2 separate regions of the Homo sapiens genome follow, and region 1 is linked to region 2. Evidence: fine-mapped expression QTL. A gene starts in region 2. The other region holds a variant in brackets. All regions are shown on one strand. Distances are between the middles of the regions. Region 1 overlaps ERFE (erythroferrone). Region 2 holds the start of ILKAP (ILK associated serine/threonine phosphatase).

The links. PIP is the estimated chance that this variant, and not a neighbour inherited with it, causes the effect.
Region 1: its variant is fine-mapped to the expression of ILKAP in whole blood (INTERVAL, PIP 0.98).

Annotation. Positions count from the first base shown.
Region 1 is chr2:238,160,495-238,165,856 of GRCh38, reverse strand. It overlaps ERFE (erythroferrone), which reads right to left. Exons shown (of 8, transcript NM_001291832.2): 2 at 4,141-4,263; 3 at 3,019-3,121; 4 at 1,858-2,120; 5 at 1,674-1,782; 6 at 1,497-1,587; 7 at 173-251. Among named protein-coding and RNA genes, the nearest start is that of ERFE, 4.2 kb to the right of the region's middle. RefSeq lists an enhancer at 2,199-2,699. The variant T/C (reference allele first, on the strand shown) is at 3,254.
Region 2 is chr2:238,201,688-238,207,049 of GRCh38, reverse strand. ILKAP (ILK associated serine/threonine phosphatase) reads left to right here and starts at 3,355. Exons shown (of 12, transcript NM_030768.3): 1 at 3,355-3,551. The coding sequence starts at 3,497. RefSeq lists enhancers at 2,474-3,346, 4,309-4,368 and silencers at 3,159-3,728, 3,849-3,938.

The DNA.
Region 1 (5,362 bases), 41 kb after region 2:
GCCCAGACCAAAGTGAGAACTTGGCATGTCCTGGACCCTCTCCCAGGCCTGGAGTCTGAGGGTGCTGCACCCGACCCAGTGATCCTGAGCATCTAACAGCACCCTTCTGCACCCAGCCACCCGTGGCCATGCCCAGGCGGTGCCCCTCGATGCCCAAGCCTGCCGCACTCACCTGCAGGTACAGGACGCCATTCACAGAGATGGTGAAGAGCTCACTGCTGCTCTCCAGGCCCATGATGGCCTCCAGGGAGCTGTACCCAAAACAGAGGGAGGGTCAGCCTGCCCCATGAGACCCCACCAACTTCACCTACGACACACAATCCTGCCAGCAGCCAACACATGCCCAGCAAAGTGCCTGACCCTGGCCAGGTCTTCCAGTGGAGGTGGTGTCTGAACCGAGTCCCCAAGAGGAGGAAGGACACAGGGCCAGAGGCATGCTTGCTGTATTGGGAAAGGCAAGGCGAGGGCCCAGCAAGAGGCAGCAAAGCCCTGGCTCTGATGGGAAACAGGACACTGGCTGATGCAGCCGGAAGTGGGGATGTGGTGGCAGGTGATGCTAAGTTAGTTCAGGCCAACACACTCTGGGGGTTCAAAGGCAGACTAAGAAGTTTTGGACTTGATCCATTCATTCAAGTCTGCTCCAGCTATCCTACCCGCAGGGTATCTCCGCTGTACCTGGGCTCCCTTCTGGGTGTGGGGAGACAGGGAGCTCACAGTCACTGCACTCGTGGGCCAGATGGTGCAGGAGCAAGGGATGCGATCATGGGGAAGAAAGTTCCCGGGTGAGGAGTGGGAGGGCGACTGAGGAGGGGGCCTCCAGAAAGCTGTCTGGAGAGGCCTCTTGAAGTAACACTGGTGCTTCGAGCCCCAAGATGAAAGTCCCTGAGGTGGGAAGGAGTTGGGAGGCTAGGAGGAGCCCGGCCTCCTAGGACCTGGGGAGGAGGTGAAGGTCTGGGCAGGGAGTGGCCTGGAAAGGTTTTTTTTTGTTGTTGTTGTTTGTTTTTTTGAGACGGAGTCTCGCTCTGTTGCCCAGGCTGGAGTGCAGTGGCGCTATCTCTGCTCACTGCAAGCTCCGCCTCCCGGGTTCACGCCATTCTCCTGCCTCAGCCTCCCAAGTAGCTGGGATTACAGGCACCCACCACGCCCGGGTAATTTTTTGTATTTTTAGTAGAGACGGGGTTTCACCATGTTAGCCAGGATGGTCTCGATCTCCTGACCTCGTGATCCGCCCGCCTCGGCCTCCCAAAGTGCTGCGATTACAGGCGTGAGCCACCGCGCCCAGCTGGAAAGGTCATTTTTAACAGCTCCCAGTTGCTGTGAAGGGAAGGCCTGATAGGGGCAGAAGTAGACCGGGAGACCTGGAAGAAGGTGTGGGGTCACCTAGGCCACGGTGGGGTGTGAACGGGCGGAAGCCCCGTCCAGTGCCTGTTTAACCACCTCCAGCTTGTGGAGGCCGAGCGAATGCGGGTGTGGGGTCCGGGCCGGGGTACACTCACGCGTTGCGCTGGCACCGGGACTGGATGCAGATGAGCAGGCGCAGGTGGTCCCGGGGGCGCGGCGGCCCCCTCCTCGGCGGCTCCCCGAGCGCTGCGGGGGAGGGTGGGACGTGGTCAAGCGGGCGGGCGGCGGGGTGGGCGACAGAGCGGGCGATCCTCCCACGCCCCGGGCCTCACCCACGTGCAGCGTGGCGGCGAGAGCGTAGAAGCCAGCCACGGGCGCCCTGTACTGGCCGCTGGTCAAGTTCAGGCCCGGGCCGCGGCGGAAGGCACCCTCGGCGTCGGGCTGCGAGGGGCACGGATGGTCACCCCGGCTCCCGCCCGGCCGGACTCACCCGCCCTCCCGCGCGCCGGCACTCACCAGGTAGTAGACGCCAAGCTCGTGCAGCGCGCGCCGCTCCACCAACGCGTCCCGGCGCAGGCGGCAGAGGAAAGCGGCCTCCACGCGCGGCGCCCGCGGCCCCGGGGCCAGGGGCGCGGCCAGCAGTGCCAGCACGTCCCCCACCACGTCGTCGTCGTCCTCCCCGGCGGTGGCCGAGACCGGGGCGAGGCTCGCAGCGACCGGCCCGGCGGGGCCACACGTACAGGGTTCGGGCTCCGCGCGCTCCCGCTGCCGCACCGCACCTGGCACAGAGCGAGCGGTGGCCGCGCGCCAGGGACCCCTCACCCGCCCGCCGCGTGGGTCCAGCCCTGAACGACAGGTGCTAGCGAGACCAGGGGCCTGCCGGGCGCAGGGGTGGGGCGAGGGCGACGTCCCCTCGGCCTGAAGGGCCTCGGAGTCTTTGCGTCCTGACCCTGCAGCGGCTCCCGTTTCCCTCAAGATTTGGGAAGCTCGGGCAGAAGTGCCCCAGCGCCCTTGGCCTCCAGCCTCACCTCTACCCCACCCACATTTTCCAAAGACGCTGGGGGTAAAATAAGCGATTGCAGCTTTACTGGAAGTACAAGGAGGTTCTTCAGCGCAGAAGGTGCTATATTTAAACGAACAGGACATTGAACTAAAAGGAAAAAACGGCTCAATTCTAATGACTAATGTGAGCCGCCGCTCTGCAGGAGGCCTCAGTGTGGACTCCGCGGCTCCACTCAGCCCTGCCTCCTCCAGGGCAGGCTGCCCCAGCCCTGGCCAGTGGTGACTGTGGGTGCCAGGCTGAGCTCCACCTGGTGCTGCCCCATACACTAGCCTCTGCCTTTCGCTGGGCTCTCCTGACTTCCAGGCAGGGCATAGGCGCTGGTCCCTGAGCACCCGCCATACTGAGTGGCCAGGTCCACCTTCCTCTGTGAAGCCTTCTCCTGGCCATGGTTCCCAACCCCCAGCCATCCCCAGCCCTGACCCTTGGCAGACATGGGCCAAGATGGGGCAGAGACTGGACCTGGCCAGCTCTACTGTCCTTGAGTCCAGCCCAGAGCAGGTGCCTCCTTGGGTGCCCGCCGAAGTGTTGAGGTTGGCCCTGTCAGCTCCTCGGGACACCCTCCCAGGCCCTGCTCACAGCGGGGTGTGTGTGTCCCAGCCGGTGCACACCCCTACCTTTCAGCAGCAGCTGGAACTCCTTCAGCAGCGCCTCGGGTGGGATGATGGGGCCTGGGGGGCCCTGGGGACCGGGAGGCCCAGGGGGCCCTGGCAAGCCGAACTGAAAGGGAACCTTGGCAGTGAGGACATGTGAGGAGCAGGCTGGGAGCCACAGCATCCCCTGTGCAAGCTCTTGCCACTAAGAGGCAGGCAACAGAGCTCCCCAGTGGGCTCCAACCTCCAGCCAAGGATC[T/C]ACCTCAGTGAAAGCTTCTCCTGGAGTGAGTACAAGGACTGTGCTGGAGGTGGGGGCCCTCGGGGCGGGGCTTTGGCAGGGAAGGACTCTGCTCTGAGTGGGGAGGCAGAGGGCTGAAGCCCGCTCCTGCGGCCAGGCCTCGTGGAGGGAAGAAGACTCTAGGCTGCTTTTGGGGACTTGCATCTCAGGGTCTGCACTGGGCCCGAGTCCACCATCAGCAGGTCCCCACTAGGCTGGGTTGGGACCCGAACCAGAAGCCAGTGAGCCCCCTGTGGGGAGAAGCTTAGGGCAGGGCCAGGAGGCTGGGCAGAGGTAGAAGGCCAGGCCACGAGGACAGCGCGGCCTGTGCACCTGCCTCATGCACTCCGAGCTGGCCTTCCATCGTGTGTTCAGATCCCAGGCAGGTGATACTGGCCCCCAGGGGACAGAGAAGCCCACACCCCGTATTTTCCATTTTGGGGGCTCCAAGCAGGAGGCAGCACCAGGACCAAGCACCAAGTTTCTGCCCAGGCCAAGACCTAAGGCTGAGTGAGGGTGAGAGGGACCCTGTGCCCCTAGTCCCTGGGAGCCAGGCACTCCTGCAGGCCCCTCCAGTGTGGACAAGGTTCTCACCACAGCCTGGGCTAGCCCAGCCTCCCTGGCCTGGATGCAGAGGGAGGAGAAAAGAGGGAGAGCCTGGCATTTTAGGGGTGTGGGGAAATGGTTGGGACCAGGCCCCTAACTCGGGGCTCCCCCTGGGGCTGCCTGGGTTCTCTCTGTTCTCTGTCCCCAGGCCGAGGCGTGAGGGGTGTGCTATTGGAAATGTTCAGGATGTAGGAGTGGGAGTGGATGAGGAGCGAGGAGGCGGAACCCCCCACGGCCTGGCACTGACGGGATGCCGGCCTCACCTTCAGCTTCTTGGCCTTGCCCCTGCTCCTCTTCTTGCCATTGACACCCTTGTCACTCTGCCTGACGAAGAGCATCCAGGCGTCCCGGGGGTCGACGCTGTGTGCACGCTCAGCGGTGGGCTCCTGGAACACAGCCAGCCCAGCAGGGCGGTTGGCCTCACTGGGCTCCTACCAAGCAGGTGGGACACTTTGCAGGAGGTGACTGTGTGGCCTTCTGTACTCTGGGACCCTGGTCCTTGTCACCTGTGGTGCCCTCAAAGGCAGCTCCCAAAGGGGCCCCAACCCCTCACAGCTTCTCCCCCGGCCCGTGGAGGATGACTCCTAGGGAACGGGCCACACCTCGGCCTGGACTTGGCACTCATGGGAGAGGCAGACCCAAGATGCCTGGAGGGAAAATGGGGTGCAGGGCTTGGATATCGGGGTGAATCCCCGTACTGCTGGGCCTCCTTCCTCCAGAGGAGCTGCAGTGATCACACCGTCCTCCAGTCACCAGGAGGATCCGACCACTGGAGCACCCATAGGTGCTCAGGAAGAAGCAACTGTGATTATCAGGGAGCCCAACTACTAGCCAACCCTCCTCTGTCCATCCTCCCCCAGTGTCAGAAGTTCTAAGGAGGCAAATTCAGCTCTCACAGCTGCCTCGGGTTACAGTCCAGTGGGGGAGAGGACCAGGCGAGCTGTCATGACGCGAGGCCTCTGTGTGAGACTTTCATTTCCTCAGCACTTCTGAGACACTGACACATGGACAGTGATGCTTCCGGAAGTTCCCATTCCTGTCCGCGCTGCATCCTGACTGATGCTGACACTGAGCACAGTTTTGGGAGGGACCTTCCTGGGAGAGGCCTTGGGCTATCTGGGCTCCAGGCAAGGCTGCCAGCTGGGAAGGAAACCGGCCCAAGAGGGCTTAGATGAGGTCATGGGTGCTGACGCTGGGGGCTGACGGAAGGACCCTGGGATTTTAGAGCTGACTGGGCCCTTTTATCAGAGACAAAGCCGGCTGCCAAGTCACTGCCTTTGGTTCCTGGCTGATCTGGGGGGATGCAGGGCCTTCTTTTGGGAGCTGGCTGACCAATGCGCAGGCCAGGGTGTTGTGGTGGGAAGATGGGGGCTGCGGTGCCGAGGAGCCTGTGGTTGGGCGGAGAAAGGGTTCAGGGGCCCAGGGCCCTCAGCGCTGCTCAGTGCTTCCTTGTGCCTTAGAGGGTCAACTGCACCACCTGCTGGC
Region 2 (5,362 bases):
AGTCGGTGATTATCCCACTTCCAGGGCCGATCAGGCCAACAAATTATTTCAAACCTAGGATAACTCCCTACAGCGCCTTAAGCCCCACGGCCCTCCCATTGAAGGGCCCATAACTAAACACACTCCTCCTCTTATAATGAGCCTCACTTTGCTTTTCAGCCTCGGAGGGAAATTTCCCTGTAGGGTCCTTAACATCTAACCTATGCAACCACACTATCATTGTTAAACACCCCTCTGACCATCAAACTAACCAGGCTAACTACCAAGTATCACCTGAAGCGAACGGAGCATTTCTGCAGCTGGCTCGTTTGACAGCCTTTCCCTCAGCCAATGCCTCCAGCCTAACCTGTGCTGCTCCTAGTGCCCACAATTTTCCTTGGCTCAATATCAATAGTGCAGCATCCGACCGCATTAAATCTGTAAAAAATAACTCTTCCTATACCTCTAGTATAGTAGGTGTCTCCCAGGCCTCCTCCTTGTCCACCTGGAGTAATGAACCACAGGAAAGAACAAACACCTCATCTTTAATTCACTTATTTTCTGTCCATATCTCTGCTTGTATTTACAATAAAGGCTTGTTCTTTTTGTGTGGTCTCAACACATATTTCTTTGTCTCCCCATCAACCAGACCAGAACCTGTACCCTAGTTTATCTTTCTCCCTCCATTGGACTAGTTCCTCCTAATCAATCTTTACCCGTTCCATCCATCCAATATGTTAGGAAGAGGAGAGCCATCCACGTCATTCCTTTAATGGCTGCCTTAGGTATAACCTCCGGGCTTGGGTTGGGAGCAGGCTGATTCGCCACCTGCTTAACATACTTGAAATCTCTTTCAACAGAACTGCAGAGTTCATTAGAGCATATGGCCCAAAGCCTTATAAGAGTCCAAGGCCAACTAGACTCCTTGGCTGGAGTAGACTCCTTGGCTGGAGTAGTCCTCCAAAATAGACAGGAATTAGATGTTATAACAACTGAAAGAGGGGACCTCTGCCTCTCATTCGGTAAAAAATGTTGCTTCTATCTCAATCAGTTGGGCCTAGTAAGAGACGCTGCTAAAAAACTTAAAGAAAGGGCTAAAAAGCTAAGAGAATAACAAGACAACCAAATAAATTACTGGTTTAAAAACAAAGTCCTAATATGGGTCATCCCATTCCTGGGCTCTCTCCTAAAAATATGCCTAGGAATAATGTTCTTACCCTGCTTAATTAACCTTTTTCTAAGTTTTTTTTATTTTTTTGAGACGGAGTCTTGCTCAGTCGCCCAGGCTGGAGTGCAGTGGCGAGATCTCGGCTCACTGCAAGCTCCGCCTCCTGGGTTCACACCATTCTCCTGCCTCAGCCTCCCAAGTAGCTGGGACTACAGGCACCCGCCACCATGCCTGGCTATTTTTTTTTTTTTTTTGTATTTTTAGTAGAGACGGGGTTTCACCATGTTAGCCAGGATGGTCTCGATCTCCTGACCTCGTGACCCACCCGCCTTGGCCTCCCAAAGTGCTGGGATTACACGCGTGAGCCACCGCGCCTGGCCACCTTTTTCAAAGATTTTTAACCAGCAGGATCATGGCCATCTCACAGACAATTACCCAAAAACATCTACAGACAGCGTTACTCCTACAATCAATCTGAAACCAAAGAACTCTCTGCTCACTCCCCCAGCAGGAAGTAGCCAGAAAAAATGCGCTGCCCCTTGTCCTTTTCATAACTATAGAGACTGGATTGATAGAGCAGGAGCATTGCCATCTTGGACAAACACCACCTTTCTAAGTTCCCCTTGATTAAAAAACCACCTAAATCCTACCCCAAAACATCAGCCTAACGGCTAATGTCAGCATAACCAGAAATATTCCAACCCTAAGATAAACCTCTCTTCAACCAGAAACATGCTAACCCTGAAATAACCTCTCCTCCAATAGCCTCCCCTCCGACCAGAGACATTCCAACCCTGCAATAAACGTTCCCCCACTTCCAAAACCCTTAAATATCCTTAGTCTGTAAGAGAGAATGCTTAGTCTGTAAGAGAGAGCGCTCCTGATCGAAATTGGCCAGAATCCCCTCTCAGGTTTATTCTCTGAAATAAACCTTTTAATGTTGAGCCGCTTTTTGTATTTATTTCCTCTTTCTTTAACGGTTACAAGCATTGTTACTTGAGTGTTTCTGCTGTAATGGAGGAGGCAGCATGAATATCTCAAACGGTTGCTAGTGAGAAGCCACGCAGATGAGAGGCATGAAGCCTTGTTGGGCTCCCTCCATGTCCTACAGCCAGAGAGCGTCAGAAATACATCTGCCCCAGAATGAACTGGGCTGAAAACTCTTTGCATGGAGGGAGACCACATAACCTGGGGAACTTGGGTAAACGATGTTGGAACGGAGGTGTAAGATTTGGGTTTGTGTTAGTTGATTTGGGGAAACATTTATGGAAACGGGCCTTTGCTCCGGATTGGATGTCAGGAAGAGGAGGATTCCATGATTGGATATCTTGATGAAGCTTATCTAGACGGCAGGAGGACGAGACAAAGGCTAAACATGTAATGGTAAAGAAGCAGCAATCACTCTTATTGGCCAAGACGAGGGGAATGTGGTCACTTTTGTGGCTTGGACAGTGTTCCTGTTTTGTCTGTGTTCACACTTGATTACACAGTGGTCTGTTTTTTTCTCTTGATCTGTATCACGGCCTGATGTTGGTGTTTTATGAAATTGTTCACATTCAAAGAGAACACCCAGGCCTAGCTGTTTGTGCCAGACCAACCCCAAGTCCTGGCTGCAGAACCAGGCCAGCTCCCCGATGTCAGTGGCCGCCTTTCTCTTTACAGGCATGGAGGGGGACACCATTAAGGAGGAGCCCCTCTTCTCCGCTCCCCACAGACACCAGTGGGTGCAGACAAGTCAGGGAATGCCTCCTTTCCCTCCGGCATCTTTTGAGGTTTCCGTCCTGACGCCCAGGGCCGCTCCATCCAAGCCTCGGTTTCTCAGTCTCTAAAACAGGCCAGAAACCAGGCACGCCGTGGTGAAAGGACGAGCCGAAGAGATGGCAAGAGCTCCAGAAAGCCTTCCCAGGCATCAGGGGCTGCCCTTGAGCTCAGACGTTTCTCTCTGGACAGGGCTTCTTGGACAGGAACTCAACGAAACTTGACAGAAATCGGACACCCCCAGCCAAGGAAAAGCAGGAGGGGCCCGGGGTTCGCCAAGGCGGGAAACACCGCGGGGCCCAGACGGCGCCGTCCGCCCGGCTCGCAGTCGGGGCGCGGGAGGGGCCCACGCGCATGCGCACCGCCCCGCCCCCAGCCGCCCCGCCCAGCCCGCGCGCAGCCCTCTGGGGCGGCCGGGCCACGCCGCGCGCCGATTGGTGGCGTCCGGGACTCTCCCTGCAGGTGACTGACGGCGCCGGCCGCCCCTGCCCGTCGCCCGCCCGCTGCTGCCGCCCGCCCGGGGTGTGGAGCCCGGCCGCTGCTCGCGGGCTGAGTGTCTGTCGCTGCTGCCGCCTCCACCCAGCCTCCGCCATGGACCTCTTCGGGGACCTGCCGGAGCCCGAGCGCTCGCCGCGCCCGGCTGCCGGTAAGCGGCGTTGCCGCCGGGCCGGCCAGGGAAGGGAGAGCAGGCGGGATGGGGGCGGCCTGAGGCCCGGGGCGGCTGAGGCGGCGCCCGCGCTGGGAGGCGGCGGGCGGCGCGGGCTGCACGGGGCCTGCTCCTGCCTGGCCAGGCCCCGTCCGGCCCACTGGCGGCCCTGTCGGAGGCCCGGTCGCTCGCGGAGCTCGGAGAGGCCGCTCCGCCATTTTCGCTACGCAGGAAGGAAAGGGCCGAGCCGTCGTGGCCACGGCCCCTCTGCGTGGCGGTGAAAGGCGCCGGCGCGACCGCGTGGGCCGACCCGAGGGACCGGCTCTGAACGCCCGGCGGCACCGCGGGCCCCCGCGCCCCGATTCCACCCGCGGCCTGGGCTGCCTTGCGCGTCGCCCGCCCGCGGCTTCCGGGCCGCACTTCACCCGCGGGCTGTGGAACGGCCGCGTTCCGGGCCGGTGCAAGTTCAGGGGCTTGGCGTTTTTATTTGCACTGGAGATTGAATTAATCACCATCTTAATCCTTCGTGTTTTTGAAGCCTGGAAGACAGGATGCCTCCTCTGTCATCCTGTGATTTTGTGATAATTAACAGTAGTTTTTTTTTTTTTTTTCTGGTCCACGGGAAGTTCCCCCTCTCCTTGAAGTTAAGGGGTCCGCTCATCTCCTAAGCGCTGGCCCCTGCCAGTGGGAGTCCCTGTGGGCTGTGGTTTGAGCTCAGCATCCTAGCAGCTTGAAACAGGGCCTGTGTTAATCCCTGCGTCCTGTGGGTTACAGTCTCCGGGTTTCATCTGTCAAAACGCGTGAATATTTCATATGCAAGACTTCCAGCTTGATGTTGTAGTTTAGGGCCTTATTACAAAATTTAACTTGGGGGCAGAAAACCTGGAAAACTTAAGACGTTCAGATTTCCAGGCCCACCTCAGCCCCAGTAAATCCGAATCCCTGAGAGTGGGGTTTCCGAATCTGTTACTAAATCCCCAGGCCAACCCAGCGGGGGCTGGAGACCAGTGGTTTGGGAGCTGCTGTTGTAGGGTAGACGGAGGTGAGTAAGGCCCAGCCTTCGCTTTCTAAGAGCTGCTTTCTGAAGGGTACTAATTACGGTAATTAAAACTGGCAAAAGTTAATGACTGTGGGAAATGCTGAGGACTCTTGAGGAGGGATTGTCGGGCACCGAGAGACTGGGGAAGGAGGCAGTGTTTGAATTGAGCTTCCAAGGATGTTCAGGCTTGTGATTTGCAGTAATTCTGGGCGAGAAAACATTTTATTTTATTTTACTTTTTGAGACGGAGTCTCACTCTTGTCGCCCAGGCTGGAGTGCAATGGTGAGATCTGAGCTCACTGCAACCTCCGGGTTCAAACAATTCTCCTGCCTAGGCCTCCCTACTAGCTGAGATTACAGGCGCCGACCACCACACCCGGCTAATTTTTATATTTTTAGTAGAGACGGGGTTTCACCATGTTGGGTAGGGTGGTCTTGAACTCCTGACCTCAGGTGATCCGCCCGCCTCGGCCTCCCAAATTGCTGGGATTACAGGTGTGAGCCACCGTGCCCTGCCCCCACTGACCGTTCTGATGGTACAGAGCATCTCAGTAACTGGTCCTGGAGTCTTTGAACTTGACTCAGCCATTCATTTTCAAAATAACCACGGTTTTAGCTGTGGGTAAAAATTGGATTTGTGTAGCAGTCTTTTTTCTCTTGTCAATGGAGTATAATTTCTATCTGAATATATTTGGGACAGCATTTGGATTCACCAGTGTGCGTGTAAACCTATGAGTCTTAAAATCTCCATTGCTTTTTACCTGCAATTAAT